3 separate regions of the Homo sapiens genome follow, and regions 1 and 2 are each linked to region 3. The links come from fine-mapping of genetic effects on gene expression. A gene starts in region 3. Each other region holds a variant in brackets. All regions are shown on one strand. Distances are between the middles of the regions.

Region 1 (7,117 bases), 120 kb before region 3:
GTAATCTCAGTTACTCCGGAGACTGAGGCAGGAGAATTATTGCTTGATCCCAAAAGGCAGAGGTTGCAGTGAGCTGAGACTGCATCACTGCACTCCAGCCTGGGTGACAGAGTGAGACTCCATCTCAAAAAAAAAGAAGAAAACCAAGAAACCAAGGAGAGAGTTTCAAGGAGAAAATAGACAACAGTATCAAGTGCCTTAGAGAAGTCCAGTAAGAAAGACTGAAGTGAGACAATGTGTCACTGGACCTCTGACAAGAGCAATTTTAAGAGTGTCATGCAGGTAGAAACCAGACTGCGATGGGTTGAGTAGTCAGTCATGAGTCCCTAGAGTTTGAGAATCCAGTCAGCTCTTTCTAGAACTTTGCATATAAAAGGAAGAAGGGATATGGGTCTAGAATTAGACTGGGAACAAGGCAGGGTTGAGGTTTGGAGGGTTTTATCTGTTTGCTAGGATGCAGAGAGGACTTAAACACATTTATATACTGAGGAAAATAAACTAAAAAGGGAATGAATGGTTGAATGTGGAGGGGAAATTTCAGCTAATGACAATGCAAGATCCTTGAGAAGTCAGGATAACATAGAATTAATAGCACAGATAATCAACTTAGCCCTGAATAGGGGGAGAGAAACTCCTTTCTCTGGGCTAGAACAGAGGATAAATCCGTGGGTGAGTAGTAGCTTTACAATGTTAGTTTTTCTGTTTTATTTTTCCATTATTCTGTAAACATAATGTAATACATATTGTAACAAAACAGTTGAAAAACACAGAAAAGTAGGAAGGAAAACAGAAAAGTAGGAAGGAACAAATATACACTGATTGCATTCTGGCATATTTCATTGCAGACGTTTTTCCTCCGAGAATTCATAACATGCTGTAGATTCATTTTTTATACCTTTGATTTTTGTTGGTTTCTTTTCTGTATAATTGAAAACAAAACCACCTCTTAGAAGGAAGAGATATTGAGAATTTTAATTGTGGCCAAGGGTTGGAAAAACCGTGATGGGAAAGTGAAGTCGGCACTACTAAGAATATGTAATAGAGGGTAATATGGGTCCAGACAATATTGGACACCAGAAGCTTGCAGCTGCATTCACTTGCACGGTTGCATGCTCCGGCATGTTCAACAACCCACAAAGAGAAGCAGAGGAAGACTGAGATTAACTTAAAGTCAGTTTTGCCTGGTAGCTAGTGTTCATCCTGTAATCCTCACCAGAGTCCTGTGAAATCGGCAACAGCTTTTTTTTTTTTTTTTTAGACAGAGTTTCACTCTTGTCGCCCAGGCTAGAGTGCAGTGGTGTGAGCTCGGCTCACAGAAACCTCCGCCTCCCAGGTTCAAGTGATTCCCCTACCTCAGCCTCTCAAGCAGCTAGGATTGCAGGCGCTGGCAACCACGACCGGCTAATTTTTGTATTTTTAGTAGAGATGGCGTTTCACCATATTGCCCAGGCTGTTCTCGAACTCCTGACCTCAGGTGATCCACCCACCTCGTCCTTCCAAAGTGCTGGGATTACAGGAGTGAGCCACCGCGCCCGACCGGCAATGGCCCTTTTACAGATGAGGAGACTGAAGGCTCAGGGAAGTGGCCTGCTCTATAGTGCACAGCACAAAAAGGGAAGTTTGGATAGAAACTGACATTTTCTGTTCCCAGCCCCAAGCTGGGCCCTAATTATCACAGCGACCTCTTACACCCAATAGGTCCCTGGAATCTCACCCAGAGCTCTAGGGTGAGATGAGCTGGAGAATAAAGTACCCTCCTCACCAAGAAAACGTATACATGCTATCAATGTGATTAATTTACCTTTAGAATGAAAACGTTTTATTCATAAAATTTCAATTTCAACTAAGCAATTATGGAGCCGCGGATACTGTACTACAGCCTCAGGATAACAAATCTCCGTGCTGGTAGCTGAGTCATAATTAAACAGCAGCATAATTTATTTGATTATGCATCCTAATTAGCATTAGGCTCTCAAAAATAGAACACGTGTCATCAGTAAATATGAGGGCACACCAAACAGAGTGAAGACCCATGAAAATGTTCTTCGGCGCCCCCATCATCTGTATCTCGCTGCACTATCAAAACAGAAAGGTCTGACCACTCATTTACGCGAATATGGACATTGCTTGGATCTCCGATCAGAGAAAGATCCGAAGTTTGCTTTGGGGAATTATACGCGTCTTGGGACGAGCAGCAGGGATGGGGTCGGACAGTTCAGAGCCTTCATACTGTCCCCCCCACTCAAAGCCCCTGGCTCCAGGTACAGCAGCTCTAGTAGTTCCGGGTGAGCTTATGGAGCGGCTGCGAGTCAGTTTCTCCACCCACCACCACGCGCCATCCAGGCCTCCCCGCCTGCCCACTCCCTATTGGGGGTGGAAAAGATAAATAGAAAAGATGGGTTCTCCCGGCAGAAGTTACGGTCCTGCCGCTAGCCCTCTCTGAGCTCAAATTCACGTCCCTGGCTGGTGCCCTCTTTCCCTTCCCTCTGTCCCCAGGTCCCAAAGAGTCAGCTCGCCGCTCCGTTGCGCCTCTCACCACTGCGCACCTCACCTCTCTGCGCCTCTGCCCCGACCCTGCCGCGTTCCCAGCCTCGGAGGGACCCCCGAGTTCCTGCTCCAGCGCCCTCTAATGGCCAAGACCTGGGGAGCGCAGGAGAAAAGCAGGTGGGGAAAAGGCCATCAATGGATGGATACCCAAGGACACTTCCATATGTTCGGTGGGGAGGGCAAGGGGGGCAGAGCGTGGGAAGATGCACCAAGCCCAGGCACC[C/A]GAGGCCCGAGGTGCCAGCCGTAGAGGAGAGAACCCAACGCAATTCCATATGTTCAAGAGGCAGATCCAGGTAAGAGTCTGGGCTATGTAGCCAGATCCCCTAAGTTCAAATCTCAGCTCAGCCACTTACAAGCTGCATGTCTTCAGGCAAATTACTGAACATTTCCAGGCCTCGGATTTTCTCCTCTCTGAAATGTGGATTATAATAGTATATTCTTCATAGGATTGTTAGGATTAAATGAATTAAGACCTGTGAAAGGCTTCGAACAGTGTCTGACCAACAGCATACACTCAATAAATGCTGGCCATCATCATCATCATTTTAACAAGCATGAATTTCATTATCTGCCTAATATTATGAGTTTAAATTTGCACATATATATTGGAATTATAATTAGGCAAATTCCTATATGCTATTTAATCTATAGAATTGAATTTAAGCAATCTATTAGTGGCCCAACATAAACCTCTATGTGTTCTTTAAATATACAAACCTTTGATATTTACTTACTATGTGTTCTTAACACATAAAACTCTTAGATATTTAGCAGCATGTCTTTTATCTGAATCTAAAGAACTCACTGCAACATTAAGTGCTGACAATGCAGAAGATTCTGCTTTGCTCATAAAAGGTCTGGGAATATCCTGCTGCTTTCCAGCTGGAAATCTTTTATCTAGTCATTTATCCAAGCAAATAGACATTAATTGTCCTACTTTCTTTCTTTCTCTGTCAAGCACTATTATGCCACAACATTCGATTTTGACGTTTTTATTCTGGACCCCAATTTTGTGGCTGCATGGAGCCAAAGGGTCTTTATGAAAAATTAATATTTATTTAATTACCAAATATAAAAGCTAATGACTGAATTTTTCCTCTTTCGCTCCAATTTTTGCCAATTTGTATTGTAAATAGACACAGAAAATATACGGGAGCTTAAAGCATGATTTGGAGCACAGGAAAACCTGAACCAAAGGAGAGAACAAAATTAGGCAACCCATTCATTATCAAGAATGTATTATAGGTTCAGGGAGCTTCAATTGTGCTATTGTTGCTATTGTTAAGACAACAACAATGTGCTTTTATGGTACCCAGCGCTAGCCCCTCTCATCACACCTGTCACTCCTATTGTGTTTATTCTCTATCTTTCTGTTATCTTTCTTTAAGGTTCTTGTCTATATTTTCAGTATCCTCCTATTTATTTAGCACTGACCAACGCCTAGTGTGTGTTTGGATGAAAGAACAAACATTCATTTTGAACTTATTATATAAAATCTTATATAACTTTGAATTTATTATATAAAATCTTTAAGTGATTTGCTCATTAATTTCCATTTTCAATTATTCCTGGAACTAGGTTGTATCCCATTTTACAAATAGATAATCTAAGATCTAATTTGAGGTTAAAATAAATTGCTAAAATCAGTTTAAAACTGATAAGCACTAAATATCTAGATGGTGCCTGAAAAATCTCACTTTTACCAAGATTCTGAATTGAACATTATTAGCAAAAGCTTAAACTGCCAAGCCACCAAAGGAAATGCAGAGTACGATATCAGTCTCTGAAACCTCTTATCTGTTGTGAAATTACAGTGGTACAGAATATCCAACCATGGTGACTTAAATTAATAAAGACAGGCTCTTAGAATCTTAGACATTGTCATTTCTTTGCTCTAGTTTCACTGCCCTTTCTGTGTTTTCCATGTCCAAAGTTTTCTTAAGTTCTGTTGAAAATAAATGGCTTGCAAACATGAGACTATCAATAATTAAGGAATATCATTGTAAGCCATCATGACATGTGGATTCTGCTGTTGCCTGGCTGGGCACATGGGACGGACAAGAAAGCAGAATGAGTACCTAGAAAAGAAGAAAGTACCATTTATTCACTCATTCATTCTCTCTCTCTCTCCCTCCCTCCTCCCTTTTTTGTGTGTGTGCAAGTGCACACCCACACACCCACAAACAACTGCATACACACACAGATGTTGATTACATGCCAGGTACTGTGATAACTGATCTAAATACAGTATCTCATTTAATTCTCAAATGTTACAGATTTTTATGCTCTGAACCCAAAGTGTGTCTTACAATCAATAGTATGCAAGCCTTATGTCATAATCTAATTAGAAGCATTTTTCTTTCATAATAACTCAAAATCATGGTGCATCTTGCCAGCAAAAGTGTGACAGATTGGAAGGAATACAGCATTCTCTCCACATCACAGAGGAAGAAACACCTAAAGAGTTCTAGAGCAAGGAAACTGACTCAAGGTTATTTCACTTTTCTAAAGCCTAAGCTTCTAACCCGATGATTCAAAAGACATCTTTTCCTCTTGCTCAGAATAAATAATTTTACCCTTTTGAGCTTCCATTTTCTCTTGCAAACATTTTCTTGTAGGAAATAAGTATCAACTACTGTCAGAAGCAAACTACTAAAAAGATTATTTAAAAAACCCAAACCTTGAAGCTAGCAAATTTTAACTGATCTGAGAAGAGACAGCGCGATAAGTATACATTCTCACAAACTATAAATGACTCCACAAAGTTTAAAAGCACAGTATATCTCTTTCTCTTTCATATATCTCAATCTTACTGTTGTAAAAAATTTCAGCAATCCCTTCATAAACAATGAACAAGATGTATCATTAGAATTAATTTAAGGTACCTTTTTCTTTGAACTCAGTGGCTGTTTAAGGCAGAGAACAAACTTTTTCTCTAAAGCCATAATATTTCACAGCATAGCTTCAAGCCAAAACTTAAAGGAGGGGTAGCAAATCCCTATTTGGACTTAGGATTAGGAAAGGCAGCCTGCATGCGTTGAGCATTTGTTGCAGTCAAAGCTGCCAGTACCTGAAGAAGCCTTTAGGCAGAGTAGAAGAACTTACAGTAAGTTCTTTTAGGAGTTCTCTTGAGGCAGATAAGCTGGGGGGATAGCTCGCCTGGCTCAAAGCTGCTGCACCCCAGCTGTCTCAAGTTTTGCCCCTCTATAACTTCAGTTAGAGGAGACAGAAGTAGACTTCATCAGCCTCAGTTTCCTCTGTCAGGTTCCCCGTGACAATCATAGTGTGGCTCCCATGGGACCACTTACAGCTAACCAAAAGAGAATGTCCTTGAATTTCTAGCGTAGCCTTGCTGAAATTTTTAGTAAAGGCTTTCAAAGGAATTACACACTTCTAAAAACCTTAGCCTCAATGACTTCAACAGGGAGATATTTATATAAAGCCCATATTTAACTCCTCTTAGGCCAGACGGATCTCATTCACTCATAATAACACTTTCTTCAACTCTTTACCAACACAGGGAGACACTGTGCAGTAGGAGAGAAATATGAGAACCCCAATCTCAGGATTCAAGGTCTGGGGATCACTGAAGGAAAGGTAATAAAAAGGAACATTCAACAGTGAAAACAACCATGCTTTTCATTTCAGGTTTCTGTAAAGCTCTGGCTGAAATAATGCATAAAAGAGAATGCTGAGCTGTTTTATGAAAGGGATTCAAAAATCAAATCAAATTAATATTTCATCTTTGATGGCTTACAAACCTAAAAGAATTTTCTGCATCCACGCGATAAACCCACAGAGGGCAAAAACCACTTGAAACGATGAAATGCAAAAATCACAGTATTTACTTCCGTTTTCCCTAGTGCTGGGAAACTGAAGGTGAAAACCGCTAAGCAAACTACTGGAAAGGTGGGTAGGGAGCCTTTGCAGAGGAAATTTCACAGGAGAATAAGAGCACCTTATTAACTTTTTCAGCTATCAAAATAAGCCTCAAACGACGTTGGTATCAATTTTCTGTACTGGGTTTCCATTCATACAAGTAAAGCCCACAGATGTGGCCCATGCCAAGTACAAAACCCTCTTTGGAGGTCCTCTGGGCAAGATCCATTTTCTGTCAGCAACTTTCAACTTCTCCTCTGTCCATTGTTGTCCAAATCCAGCAGTCCTCGGAGCTTTTCCATCGAGACAGTTCATCGTCATGACGCCCACTAATAGCAGAACTGCAAAACCCTGACAAAGCTACCCTTCCCCTAGGAGAAGTAAGCAGATTTTTCAAACTCTGTATATGGAAAAAAAATTGAGACAAAAGTCTGCACATCTGAACTATACCTATTAGAGTGCCCTTGCCCCACTAAGGCCAGGTGGAAATTTTGCTCTTGAGAAACCATATTAATTCTGCCGAGTGAATAGGGAAGACCAGAGCAGACATTTCATAAATATAGTCACATCACTAATTAGACATATTGTGTTTCTTTTTTTTAATTGACAGCTTCTCTGAGCTATAATTCACATACTACACAATTTGCCTACTTAAAGTGTACAGTTTAATGTTTTTAGTATATTCACAGAA
Region 2 (7,117 bases), 41 kb after region 3:
AGAGAATGCCCCAGGCAAGAACATCAGTGGAAAAACATACTACGTTTAGGTTATAAAAATCACAGTGAATAGTTTATACAGCATAGACAGAAATAAAAACCACCATTTAACAAACTGGCAAGTAGGCCCAACCATTTTTAAAACAAAGCTGTTCAATGGTACTAATGAATGAACCTTCATTAAGATAGAAATAGCCCACATCATCTGCTCTTCCTTTTAATTAAAAGCACTGTAAGCAGGTTAGAAGAAAAGTCTTCCCTAATTTTTCAGGATAATGATTATCGTTACTGGATTACCATAGTAATCTCCCAATTAACACCTTAGACCTTGAAAAGCAAAATTGTGAAAAGATTTTGCAAATGCTTAGGTCCATATGTAAAGCAGTTCCTGGACATGTAGAAGTACAGATAAATGGTGCCAGATGCAAAGCCAGACACAGGCTGTTTTTCGGTTCATTATCTTTACTACCTACTGAGACAATTCATGAAGATTTTGAGTGAAGGTTAAAATTTAAAGTCTTTGCAAACACTTTAGACAAGCTCTTCAGAGTTTTCTAAAGTTTGACAAATTCTGTTAATTAAGCTATCAGAGAAATAACTGTCTGGAGTCCAACAAAATAATGTACTCAAGCATTTGTGAACCATAGCATACTGTAGAGAGATATCCCCACTGTTAATAGTCCCATAGCTTTCAAAGTTCTTCCGAAATAGTGGGACTGAAGAAGAAATAGAGGCACGGGGAGAAGAGGTGTATCCTATACGGTCATCTTTAAAAAACTACCTCCCCAAAATATATGTATACATACGTACATACATACATACATACACATGTGTATATATACAAATATTCTCCTATTTAATATGAAGAAAAAAACGGGGCAATGAGAAATGCACTCAAATTAAAATATGGTTATAATCCTTCTGTAACTGTCGTTCTAAAAATAAGACTTAAAAACAAGATCAATGTATTTTCTTTTTTTTTTTTTTTTTTTTTTGAGACGGAGTCTCGCTCTGTCGCCCAGGCTGGAGTGTGCAATGGCGCGATCTCGGCTCACTGCAAGCTCCGCCTCCGAGCTCACGCCATTTTCCTGCCTCAGCCTCCCAAGTAGCTGGGACTACAGGCGCCTTCCACCTCGCCCGGCTAATTTTTTTGTATTTTTAGTAGAGACGGGGTTTCACCATGTTAGCCAGGATGGTCTCGATCTCCTGACTTCGTGATTCGCCCCCCTCGGCCTCCCAAAGTGCTAGGATTACAGGCGTGAGACACCGCGCCCGGCCGCTCGATGTATTTTCTACAGATAATTTAGATGCCCAAGGTGTTTATGGTACATCAAAAAGAGGTTTTTTGTTTGTTTGTTTGTTTGTTTGTTTTTGAGACGGAGTCTCATATTGTCGCCCAGGCTGGAGTGCAGTGGCGCGATCTCGGCTCACTGCAAGCTCCGCCTGCAAGTTCCGCCTCCCGGGTTCATGCCATTCTCCTGCCTCAGCCTCCTGAGTATCTGGGACTACAGTTGCCCGCCACCATGCCCGGCTAATTTTTTGTATTTTTAGTAGAGACGGGGTTTCACCGTGTTAGCCAGGATGGTCTCGATCTCCTGACCTCGTGATCCGCCCGCCTCAGCCTCCCAAAGTGCTGGGATTACAGGCGTGAGCCACCGTGCCTGGCCCAAAAAAAGCTTTTAAGCTTTAAAAAAAAGAAATCATAAAATTTTGCTGTTTATTTATTCAGAATTCTGAATCTGGTCACCTTGCACTTGCCAAAGAAAAATATTGAAAGCAAGGTTGTAGGGGGTCGGGGTACATGCAGATAGAAACGCTAACCTCCTCCGCTACCAGGAGAAAAATTAGATTAGACGCAATTTAAACACTTAGTAAATTATCTCCACACTAACAACTATAAATGTGATGTTCTTTATAAAAGGCCAAGACTCAGAAAGGGGAGGAGGAAGAGAGGAGACGGGGAGAAAGAGAGATCACTGTGTACATGTCGGAAGCAGCAGCCTATTAAAATGAGGGAACAGGGGAGGACGGACTGAGTCTTCCAGCCGCTGGCACTTGGGGGTGGTGACTGAGGACAGACATAAAAGCCTTGGAATTAACTAGTCCTAAAACTCCAAATGGCAGTCTGGCATCCAGTTGTTTTTGGCCACAGAACTGACTCAGCCTTCCAAGTGCTGGGGAGGATTTGATTCCCTCCTGCAATTTCCAGTGACCTTGAGAAGTGTGGAAGCGAATCAGGACTCCAGACACCTGAGCACGCTGATTTTAAGTAATTGCCACGTGTCAACAAATTAATCAGTTAGAATGTGACCCATCCAAGCGAGTTATCCCCTAATCTTAAGTAATAAAAGCAGAATCCAAAAGATGTGACCAGTGATTAGAATTGATTAGACCTAAACATAAATCTAGGCATATCTAGGAGGGCATTCGCAAAGTAAAAATAGTTATGTTGAGGCCATGGAATAATATGACTTTTTCTTTAATTTTTGTTATGTTATTTTTGCCATTTCAAAAGCGACAAGGAAAAGTTAAGAGATAAATGATTATAAGAAAATATTTACAACTTACATCACAAAGAACTAACATACAAAAGCTCTTAGAATTTCAGGGTTAAAAAAGACAAAGATACCTATAGAAAAAGGTTTTAAAAACATAACCAGCCTGTAGTCCCAGCTACTCAGGAGTCTGAGGCGGGAGGATCGCTTGAAGCCAGGAGTTCAAGACCAGGTAATACAGTGAGACGTCATCTCTAAAAAACAAAATATAATGAAATCTCAGAAAAAGACAGGTCATTTGCTTGTTAACATGTGGAAAAGATGCTTAACCTCAATTCATAAGAGAAATGCAAATTCAAAATGCAGTGAGATATAATTTCTCACATGTCAGATTGGCAAAAATCCAAAGGTTGACAATTCATTTGGCTGATAAGCCTGGGGAAAAACCAGCTCTCTCATACATTGCTGACAGGAATAAATTAAAGAAGCATTTACCGTTAGACCCAGCAATCTCACTTCTAGGAATCTATCCTGAATCTACATAAATACTAAACAAAATATTCACTGGGATAGTAATTGCAGAGCTGTTTGTGACAGCAAAAGACTGGAAACAACCCAAATGTTTCACCAATTAAAAAATGACTGAATAAACTACCCCCACAATGAAATATAGGCAGTCATGGAAAAAATAAGTAAGATTTCTATGTATTGATAAGGGGTAGTTTCCAGTACATATTAAGTGAAAAAAAAATGCACTACAGTTGCATCAGTCTGTTCTCACACTGCTAATAAAGATATACCCAAGACTGGGTAATTTATAAAGGAAAAAGGGTTAAAAGTTTAGCATGGCTGGGGAGGCCTCAGGAAACTTACAATCATGGCAGAAGGAGAAGCAAATGCGTCCTTGTTCATATGATGGCAGGAAGGAAAAGAATGAGTGCCCAGCAAAGCGGGAAGCCCCTTATAAAAACCATCAGATTTCATGAGAACCAACTCACCAGCATGAAAACAGGATGGGGGAACCTCCCTCCATGATTCAATTACCTCCCACCAGATCCCACATGGGGATTATGGGAACTATAATTCAAGATGAGATTTGCATGGAGACACAGCCAAATCATATCAACAGTATACATAAAATGCTATATTTTATATAAGAAAGGAGGTAGACTGGGCACAGTGGCTCATACCTATAAACTTAGCTCTTTGGGAGGCTGAGTCAGGAGGATCACTCAAGCCCAGGAGTTCAAGACCAGCCTGAGTGACACAGGAACTCTATGAAATTTTTTTAAATATAGGAAGAAAGAAAAAAAGAAAAAGAGAGGGAGGAAGGAAGGAAGGAAGGAAGGAAAGAAGGAAGGAAGGAAGAAAATAGGTAAAATAAGACTATATATACACAATATATGTATTATATATACACACTATATATGTGTGTTTTTAGTTTTGCTTATTTTTCCAGAAACTCTAGAAAGAT[A/C]AATCAGAAATGAATACTAATAGAGCTAGTTGTATGGGGGTTAGAAAGTGGGGAATAAGGAGAAGGATAGAGATGGTAGTAAGACTTTTCTGAATATGCCTTTTTATATAATTTTGAGTTTTTACCTACTTAAATGTTTTAAATGTTCATGAAATAGGTAAAATTACATCAAAAAGGGAAAGAAACCCTAAAATTGGGAAAAAGAAAACTTAATTCTATATCCAGTGAGCAACATACTGACACAAAGCAAAAATTTATTTCAAGTGAGTTTTAGACACCTTTTGGACAGTTCCTTCTTTAGTGGGATGTAGTCTAAAAATAAAGAACTACCTAAAAAATTCTCAAAATTCGCCTCATATTTTTATTGCTGTAATGATGTGATAATATTGACATTGTAATTTTGAAGCCCTTTTATGTGTCTACTAGGATCAAGCAAATAAATATGTTAATCTTATTTTTTCAATTTCCAACTTAAAAAGATATAAATATAAAATCAATAAGTTAAGAAAACCACATTGATTTCTTTTTTGAGATAGGGTTTTACTCTGTCACTCAGGCTGGAGTACAATGACACAACCACAGCTCACTGCAGCCTCAACCTCCCAGGCTCAAGTGATCCTCTCCCACCTCAGCCTCCCAAGTAGCTGGGACCACAGGTGCGCCCCACCATGCCCAGCTAAGTTTTTATGTTTTTTATAGAGCTGGAGTCTCACTATGTTGCCCAGGCTGGTCTTGAACTCCTGGCCTCAAGCAAGCCCACCTTGGCATCCCAAAGTGCTGAGATTACAGGTGTGAGCCACCACACTTGGCCAAAATGTTTTATATAGCTTTGTTAAAATATGATTCACACACCATAAAATTAATCTTTTAAAGCACAAAATTCATTCCACAACCCATTTGGTTTTGTCAAAAGACAAAAAAAATGTACAAAATTCAGAGCCGGGTGTGGTAGATTGCACCTGTAAGCCAGCTACTTCAGGAGGTTGAGGCAAGAGGATCGCTTGAGGCCAGGAGTTCAAGACAAGCCTGGGCAACACAGAGAGATCCCATCTCTAAAAAAATAAATAATAAAGTACAAAACTTACTGATTTTTGTTATATTCACAGAATCACGCAACAATCACCACTATCTAATTTCAGAACACTTTTTATCACCCCAAAAGAAAATCTCATACCAATCAGCAGTCTCTCCCATTCTTTCTCCCACTTACCTACTTTCTGTCTCTATAGATTTGCCTATTCTAGACATTTTATATAAATAACATCAAACAATATTTAGACTTTTGTAACTGGCTACTTTGACTTTGCAAAGTAAATCTGTCCTAGTTTCCTGTTGCTGCTGTAACAAACCACCACACATTGGGTGGCTTAAAACAATGGAAATTTATTTTCTCTCGGTTTTCAAAACCAAAAGTCTGAGCTGAGCATGGTGGTTCATATCTGTAATCCCAGCACTTTGGGAGGATGAGGCAGGAAGATTCCTTGAGTCCGGATGTTTCAGGCCAGCCTCAGCAACACAGTGAACCTCTATTTCTACCAAAAAAAAAATTTAGCTAGGTGTGGTGGTGTACGCCTAAGGTCCCAGCTACTCAGGAGGGCTGAGGCAAGAGGACTGCTTGAACTCTGGAGGTTGAGGTTTCAGTAAGCCATGTTTGCACCATTGCACTCCAGCCTGCGTGACACAGGGAGGCCCTGAATAAAAAAAAAAAAATAAAGTCTAAAATCAGGTGTCAGCAGGGCTGCACTCCCTCCAAAAGCTCAAATAGATGGACAATCTGTTCCTTTTTGCTTTTCAGCTACTGGTGGCTCCAGGCATTCCTTGGTTTGTGGCCAAATCACTCCAATCTCTGCCACCGTGGTCACATTGCCTTCTCCTCTTCTCTGTCCTCTGTGTGACTCTTATAAGGACACTTGTCATTGAATTTCTGGCCTATTTGGATAATCCAGGATAATCTCAACTCAAGATAGTCAATTTAAGTACATCAGCAAAGACCTCTTTTCCAAATAAGGTAACATACACGGGTATGGTGGATTAGGATATAAATATATCTTTTGAGGGGGGCTCATTCAATCCACTACAGTCTATCCTCAGACTTTCAAAAGTTCACATCTAACCTACTTGCAAAATACATTCATCCATCCCAAAATCCTCAAAAAATCTCAATGATTGCAACATCAACACTAAGTCCAAAATCTCATCAGCTCAAAAGTTTCAAATCTTGGTATCTAAGTCAGGTATGAGTGAGACTCTGCATATGAACCATCCTGTGGAAAAATCCTTCTCCATCTGTGGGCCTGTGAAATGAGAATACTACATATACATATTTTTTGAGATGGAGCTTCAATCTGTTACCCAGGCTGGAGTGCAATGGTGTGATCCCGGCTCACTGCAACCTCCATATCCCGTGTTCAAGTGATTCTCCTGCCTCAGCCTCCCGAGTATATATATATATATATAAATCTTCCTTAATTGATGGAAATCTGGGTTGTTTCTACTTTTTGGCTATTATAAATAATGCTGCTATGAACATTCATGTATAAGGTTTCTTTGTGGATATATATTTTCATTTCTTCGAGAATATAACTAAAAGTGGAATTGCTGGGTCATATGGCAACTATGTTTAACATTTGGAGGAACTGCCAAACTGTTTTCCAAAGTTGGTATATCATTTTGCATTACCACCAACAATGTATAAGCATTCAAATTTTTCTACATCCTTGTAAGTACTTGTTAATGTCTGTCTTTTACTTTAGCCATCCCAGTAGGGATTAAGTAGTATCTCAATGTGGTTTTGATTTGCATTTCCCTAATTATTAATACTGTTGATCATCTACCCATTCATGCGCTTATTGGCCATTTGTATGTCTTCCATGGAGAAATGTCTATTCAGTGTCTCAGCCCAAAATCTCCTTAAGCTGATAAGCAACTTCAGCAAAGTCTCAGGATACAAAATCAATGTGCAAAAATCACAAGCATTCTTATACACCAACAACACACAAACAGAGAGCCAAATCATGAGTGAACTCCCATTCACAATTGCTTCAAAGAGAATAAAATACCTAGGAATCCAACTTACAAGGGATGTGAAGGACCTCTTCAAGGAGAACTACAAACCACTGTCCAAAGAAATAAAAGAGGATACAAACAAA
Region 3 (7,117 bases):
GCATGATGTATGTAGTCTGGCCACGCCACCATCCCTGCTGCTCTGGACAGAAATCAGAAGCAGCAGCAGATAGAAGCAGAAAATCATCAAAACTTTACACATGAGGTACTGCTATTCCTTCCTCAACAAGTGTATTAGAATATAAACTTGACAAATTGGAGCTTTTCCATAGGTAGGTAGCAACAGAGAGAAGCATCACCCCACAGTTTAAAGTTTATGTTACTTGGGAAAAGACAAACATGAAGTATGAGTCTGAAAATTAGTTTCAAGAACTCTCAACTAATTGATTCTCTCCCAAACTGAAAACACACTACAGCAAGGCTAAAACGTAAAATAAAGTGAACTTTAATCTATAATATACATGAAAATGTGAAAGAACATGTTTCCTTTTGATTTTTGTAAGGAAAGTAAGTTTCAGTGTGAGTGAAACATATCTGAGAGAACAGGAAAGTCTTACCTAGGTACAAGGAGGAGTTTTCTTTCTTGACATTGTCATCTAAGTAGGTTGGTCCCAGGGTATAAATAGGTGTGGAGCCCATTCCAATGAGAATCTGCGCGCAAATGAATAAAGCCACGTAGACCCAGTGATTATTTCCTCCCGAGTCCTTCGGACAGGCCGGAGGCTCCAAAGTGGCGGTGGAGTTGCCACCCTGACACAGGCCGTCGTTGGGGGCCGAGGCGTTCAACTCTTGGATCTGGTAGGGGGGCGAGATGAAGTGAGGTAAGGCGAAGAGGGCTGCCCCGAAGGCGATGAGGAGTCCACCCACGGCCAGCCACAGGGGCCGCCGACCCCGGCCGCCGAAGTAGCTGACGAACACCACCACCACCAGGTTCCCGATGTCAAAGCAGCTGACCAGCAGCCCCGACTCGGAACTCTTCAGACTGTAGCGCCTTTCAATGGTGGTAATTACGCTGCTCAGGTACCCAGAGACCATTAACGCCTGGATGAAGGTCAGAAAGCACATGCACACCAGGAAGCAACGGGAATCCGTGAGGACCACGTAGAGGCACCTTCTCTCCTGGAGCATGGCCAAGGCGGAGGACACCGAGAAGGTTTTGCTGAGGTCCACCCTGTGGTTACAGTCCCCGAGCCCCGCCGAAGTGGACGGGGCAGAGGGACTGGGGGCCAACGGGTTCGGGCCTTGCTTCAACTCCTGGTGGCCCGAAGAATCCACACAGCCAAAGGCCGGGTTGGCGTCTCCACTAGTGGGACTGAGGCTTGGCCGGCAGGAGGCGCTGCTGAGGACCGGTAAACTCTTAGACCTGAGGGTCTCCGGCTCGCACCTCTCTTGGACAGCTTCTGCAGTGGCCGGCGCCTCCAGCTGCTCTCCCGCCCCGGGCTGCAGTCCAGTGCCTTCGTCCATGGCGCTTAGAATTCAGATTTGATAGCTGATGGCACCCAAGCACTCCGGCACGTTTCATCCACCGGCACGAGGGGCCGAAGCCGGGCCCAGTCAGTCTTGCCCACCTGGGACTGGGGCTGGGGGCGCAGGGCCGCGCAGCAGGGCATCCTCACCAGCTGCGAGGCGCCCAGTGCATCCTGATCACAGACACGGCTTCAAGGCTCCGCAGCCGCGTGCCACAGGGGGCAGGGGTCCGCGCGGTACTGCGATGAGCCCTACTCGGCGTCCCTCTCCGGGCGGTAGCTTGAGGCAGGCGCCTCGCGCGTCCCGGGCTCATCCCCTCCGCCGCCGCCGCCGCCGCCGCCGCTGGGCCCGCGGCCAGGAGCGAGTGCACCCTGCGCCGGGGGTGGGGGGGCACTTAGCGCTGCTGTCCGTACAGCATCCCACCTCGCTGCGCCAGGGGTACCGGGTGTTCGCCGCCTGGGCTCGCGGCACCCTCGGGAGTGAAGCTGCCGACCTGCAAAGCAGAAAGAGGGCGGTCAGCGAAGAGCGGCTGCGGCTTGGGGCTAGCGTCCCAGCGCCCCGGGGACCAGGGTTAGGTGACCCCGAACCGTCCCTAGAGGGACGGAGGAGCTAGTCAGGAGCGGAGCCCCGGAGGACTAGGCAGCAGCCGGCTGCAGTCTCCAGTCCCGGAACAATAAGCAGCAGGCGGTCGGCGGAGACTCTCCCTCATTGTCTGCCGCGGACCTGCCCCCGTCCCGCCCCTTCTGCCTTAAACATTGCGTTTGCTTTTATATGTTAATAATTATCAACCTGGCAGCTCTGACTCAGAGGCAGTGTCTTTTAATCGAGTGAACTAACTGCAGCCTTTCCGTACTCCTACTCCATTACTCAAAATAGAAAATGCCCAAAAGAACAAAGGAAACTTTTTCACAGACACACAATGTATTCCCTGTCCCAATTTTTCTAAAAGGAAAAAAGAAGGTGGGGGTAAACTACGTGTGTAGAAATGTGTGTGCACACTGGTGTGCGTTGGCACGTGTGCGCGACTAGATTTGAATCTGTCTGCTCCACCAGAGACACACATTCAAAGCCGAAGGCAGCAGCAAAAAGGTCAACATGCTTGCCTCTTTATTCCCAACACCAAAAATAACCCCCTGACCGAAAGAACTCTTCAATTACAAATACCAGGGGCATTCGAGGCTGTGGCCCGCACTAAGTCCCAGAGCGCGGTATCAAACGAAACCGAAAATCCGTCTGCTTTGCCGAGAGCTAGGGAAGCCACAACCAAACAAAGAGATCCCGGCACGCTGTCAGAGAGCGCGCGAGGAGCCCACGGAGCCGGCTGGGCGCACGCGGGCCGGCGGGGAGGTGTGCTATTGACTGAGCGCACCCCGCTAGCGTGGGCCTGGGGAGCGTGTGCGCGTGCGCGGCCACACACACACACACACACACACACACACACACACACACACACCGGCGTACTGGAACCTCTCTCGCGATCCCGCACCCAGCTTGAATTCAGCAAGAATCGAAAACAGGTGTGCCCCCGTGGTAAGACCCCGCCCCTAATCTTGGGGACCCCCACTCCACTCCTCCAGCCTGGGGCAAGGACGGGGGGCGGAATATGCACCAGGTGGGAGACAGCCGAGCTTCACTACACTGGGTTTCATTTTGCAGCGCGCCTTTGTGATGCTGCTGAGAAAAGAAAGGAGGAAGGGCAAGGGAGAAAGGCAGAGAGGCTGGGCGGCCAAGGGTGGCCGCTCCGGCATCTCCCTCGGCTGTGCTGGGCCAAACCCGCTCCCAGATTCCCGGCCTGCCAGCCACTCACAATCCCGGGCTTCCCCGCCGCTGCCTTACCCAGGCGCCTTCCCGGGGAACCCCACCAGCCGCTGCGTGAGGAGCCGGGGAATCCCAGCAAACTCTCGCCGCTCGCGGGGGGCGTCCGAACCCCCTGCTTAGGCGAGCGCCCTCACAGCATCGCAGACTCGGATGGACACGCGGATCCCGGCAGGGAGCTCTTGGAGCAGGCGTGGAATCCCAGGGACACCCCCTGCGCGCACATCACATACACGCACATCCTACACACACACACACACACACACACACACACACACACACACACACAGAGCCCGTGGGAAGACAAGACCGCCGGCGACAGCCCGCCGCGCTGCCCGGGCGCTCAAGCCGCCGCTACTCACTAGCGAGTCTGTCAGTCTGTCTGCCTGGCTGAGTAGAGCGGCGGGAGGGGGGCACTGAGCTACGGGAATAGTTGGGAGCCGCGTGAGGAGGCAGCCTCCGTCCAGCCGAAGAGAAATCAGTGAATGAGACTGTGACTCAGGCTGAACTCTTCCCCCCACCCCTCGCCTGTCACCCAAGCCTCTCCTCCGCTCCAAACAGACACACGCGCACAGAGACGCGCCCGGAGAGGAGCAGCCGAGGGCGCAGGCGCGAGGGCAGCCACCCAGCCCAGCCCTCCCACAGCCAGCCACCCCGCTGCCCTTCACCTGCGTGGCTGCGGGGGCCCAAGAGCGCTGAAGCCCCGAGGGAGCCGGTCTCTAGAAAAGTCAGCGGCTGAAGCTGACAGCCCACTCTGAATAAATAAATCATTTCTGATCGTTTATTCCGTGCCTTGGGCACACACCATGTCTCATTCACCATAGTAGATTCTGGGACCAAAGATAAACAAGACAAGATACTTGGTCGGAGGAAACCTCTGGCTTGTGGGGGAAATACTCATGTAAATGGCTTAAAACAACGTGGTACATCTATGCAGCCTGCTACTGGAGTAGCCAATATCCATTAGCCTTCATTTCCACGCAGCAGGAAGAACAGAGGCACGGGGGCATGGTGCTGCCAGTCAATAGGTAGATAAGCTTCCTAGAAGATTGCAGGGATGGGGCAGAGGACCAGACTGCAAGAGTGGCTGAGTAGAAAGGGGCACTACGGGTTTCCTAAGTTGTGTACTGTCAATAATGTGGGGGCAATGACGTTCTGACTTCCTCACCAGAGAGCTGGCTCTGGCAGTGACAGGTAGACAGATGTGAGGCCACACTGCGGGCACAGAAGTGAGTTGGGAGGCAGTCTGAAAGCAAAATGTGATGAGGCATTGGCAGGGGGCATGGAGAGGAGGGAACTGGGCAGCTGATGCAATCTGCAAGAGAAGAAAACCAGCCGAGGTAGGATGACTCCCAAGTTTCTAGCACCAAGTTGGGTGACTACGTGCCTGACAGCCAATAAAAGCACAGGTGGAGAAACATGCTTTAGGAGAAAGATTGTTCTCATCTACATGTGTTGAGTTTGAAATGTTTGGGGGACATCCCAGTGTACGTGTCCCATAAGCCACTGGACACACAGGAGGTTTGGACTAGGAATATTGATCAGTAGTCATCAGCCCAAAGGTGGCATGAGAAAGGATGGAATGAATAGGGAAGATCATCCAAATTGTGAAGAATCTAGGAGGACAGCGTACAGCCAAAGGAAGGAGACTGGAAGCAAGGGTCAGAGAGGTGTGGGACGCATCAGAAAAGCCAAAAGAGCAGACGACTGTAAGAAGGGAAGGGTCAGATGTGTACAGGCTGCAGGGAAGACAAACAGGATGATAACTGAAAAAAAAAAAAAAAAAGAGTATCTGAGGGCACTTGTGACCATTGACAGAGCAGGATAGTGCTCTAATGGAGGAAAGGAGGTTGCTCACAAGTACCAGTGACCATGCTGGCCATTGCTGCCAGGTCGAAGCCCCTCCACTGGCCCTTGGCCTTGCCCAATGAAAGCATTGTCTCCATTTTACAGATGTGATAAGTGTAGAGAGGTTAAGTAACTTTATATAGGCACACAGCTGCTCTGTAGACAATATGAACCAATGTGCTCCAAAAGACTATGTTCTTACTTAACCTCTTAACCCTGACTCTCTACCCTCTCTCCTGCCATTGAATAACATCCTGACTCGTCAATGCACCTTGATTCTTTTGATTATCTCCCTTTAGTCCAACAACCGTCGTATCTACAGCGATCCTTAGAGAACAATTAAGGCCAGTTGACAGTAAAGAACAATCAGTGTGTATTTGAAGTCCATGCTGAGAGAGCATCAATCTTCTGGCAGCTGCAAGACTGACCTATCAACCGAGGCATTTCTTCATTCCCTGCCATTGTCTCCTCCTCTTGAGATCGCCATCAGGCACAGTCACTTTTCTACAAACAGGCAATAGGACTCCCGCTGCCACCCTGCCCAGATTTTAGTCCTCTACTGCTGATAAAGTGAGCAAAGATACGTGGCACTTCCTGAACCCAAATACTCTTCTGAGCTGATTCTAAATCCACACAGAATCAACCTACCTCCTATTACCTCCTTCCAAGCTCTGTGTCCCATTCTCTCATTTCAGTCTCAGCTCCAGACATCAGTGAATTCAATGTGATACATCAGGGGACATCACAGGACTTCCCTACTTGAAAATCAAGCAATCGTGTCCCTGAAACACTCTGTCTTTATTCATGCTCAGTTACCGTAAAGTAGATGCAACTCTAAGAACCTATGGATTTTTTTATTGCCACTAATAGATCATGATTTACAGCAAAATTTTAAAAGGTCCAATTTTACTCACATAAGAAGAAGAAAACATTCAGCAAGAAGCATTTCTTTTGCTTTATCTTTCCCAGTTAAATATGACTTTAAAAAAGACAAAATTTTAAAAGGTCCAATTTTACTCACAAAAGAAGAAGAAAACATTCAGCAAGAAGCATTTCTTTTGCTTTATCTTTCCCAGTTAAATATGACTTTAAAAAAGACAAAATTTTAAAAGGTCCAATTTTACTCACATAGGAAACAAGAAGAAAACATTCAGCAAGAAGCATTTCTTTTGCTTTATCTTTCCCAGTTAAATATGACTTTGAAAAAGAAGAGCACACCTCATTAGCCGTAATTGTCTGATTAATACAAAGAAATGGACTCATATCACGGGGTTCTACTACCCCTATGGTAGTGTTTACTATCCTTATTTCACTCAATAATTACAGTTACTTTAACCAGAATGCCTGCCTTGTTTGGCATTTTGGGAGAGGAAGCATATGACTGTAAACCCTCTTCAAACTTTCAGACTTACGTTTGCTTCTTCTAAGTCCATCGACTTTATACATAAATGACTTCTTTTTAAAAATAAATAAATAAATAAATAAATAAATGATTTCTTTCCTGATCTTCATATAACAAGTATGTAGCCTTTGCAATTTCCAGGGCAGTCTACAGGTTTAAAATCTGGCCGTCCTGGAGAATGGGCAGAAGAAAGCTGAAGGGAGCCTTTTCCCACAGCCCTTCCCTTCCTTCTTAAAGAAGGTTCACTTCAGAGGTCTCCCAGATACAACAAGAACTGAGTTTTTGGTTCAGAATATTTTGTGGGTGCAAAACATAATACATAGTTGCCAGTAACATAATTGAATTAGGTGTTGGTTGTTTAAGAGGAGACACATTGTATCTTTAAGGTAGCCCCTTAATAGAACTTGGCATGTATATCCTTCCTTAGAAGTGAATTTCAGGTTGGGTAAAACCTGAGAAGGAACAGATCTGGCCCTGGGGTACAATGAATGCAGGCAATCACTCCAGCCCTGGTGGCTTGAGGGCCCTGCAAGTGCTAAAGGAGTATAGTGACCAACTGTGTCCAAAGAGACTTAGCACTGCAAGTCCCACACCCCCAAGAAACCACAGTTCCATGAACACCTGGAGGCTTGGCTCCCTATAAAGAAACTGCCACCTCCCTTAATATAATTAAGCCAGATTAGCT

Alleles and levels. Alleles are on the strand shown, and positions count from the first base shown. SD is a standard deviation of normalised expression in the study named. Not every link is listed here.
In carriers of allele C in region 2, the expression in prefrontal cortex of the gene that starts at base 3,669 in region 3 tends to be lower than with A alone (small effect, 0.36 SD a copy in GTEx).

Evidence for each region. PIP is the estimated chance that this variant, and not a neighbour inherited with it, causes the effect.
Region 1: its variant is the best candidate, but not a certain one, in a credible set for the expression of SLCO5A1 in testis (GTEx, PIP 0.82).
Region 2: its variant is the best candidate, but not a certain one, in a credible set for the expression of SLCO5A1 in prefrontal cortex (GTEx, PIP 0.67).

The regions. Positions count from the first base shown.
Region 1 is chr8:69,708,781-69,715,897 of GRCh38, forward strand. The region is part of intron 5 of SLCO5A1 (solute carrier organic anion transporter family member 5A1); the gene reads right to left. It overlaps LOC105375889 (a long non-coding RNA gene), which reads left to right and starts at 2,756. Exons shown (of 3, transcript XR_929026.3): 1 at 2,756-2,840; 2 at 6,068-6,144. RefSeq lists an enhancer at 2,370-2,870. The variant C/A (reference allele first, on the strand shown) is at 2,771.
Region 2 is chr8:69,871,921-69,879,037 of GRCh38, forward strand. No RefSeq gene overlaps it. Among named protein-coding and RNA genes, the nearest start is that of SLCO5A1, 41 kb to the left of the region's middle. The variant A/C (reference allele first, on the strand shown) is at 3,969.
Region 3 is chr8:69,831,310-69,838,426 of GRCh38, forward strand. It overlaps SLCO5A1 (solute carrier organic anion transporter family member 5A1), which reads right to left and starts at 3,669. Exons shown (of 10, transcript NM_030958.3): 1 at 3,545-3,669; 2 at 458-1,860. The coding sequence starts at 1,364. It overlaps SLCO5A1-AS1 (SLCO5A1 antisense RNA 1), which reads left to right and starts at 2,803. Exons shown (of 4, transcript NR_186568.1): 1 at 2,803-2,884. RefSeq lists silencers at 1,645-1,734, 3,825-3,934 and enhancers at 1,925-1,994, 3,425-3,504.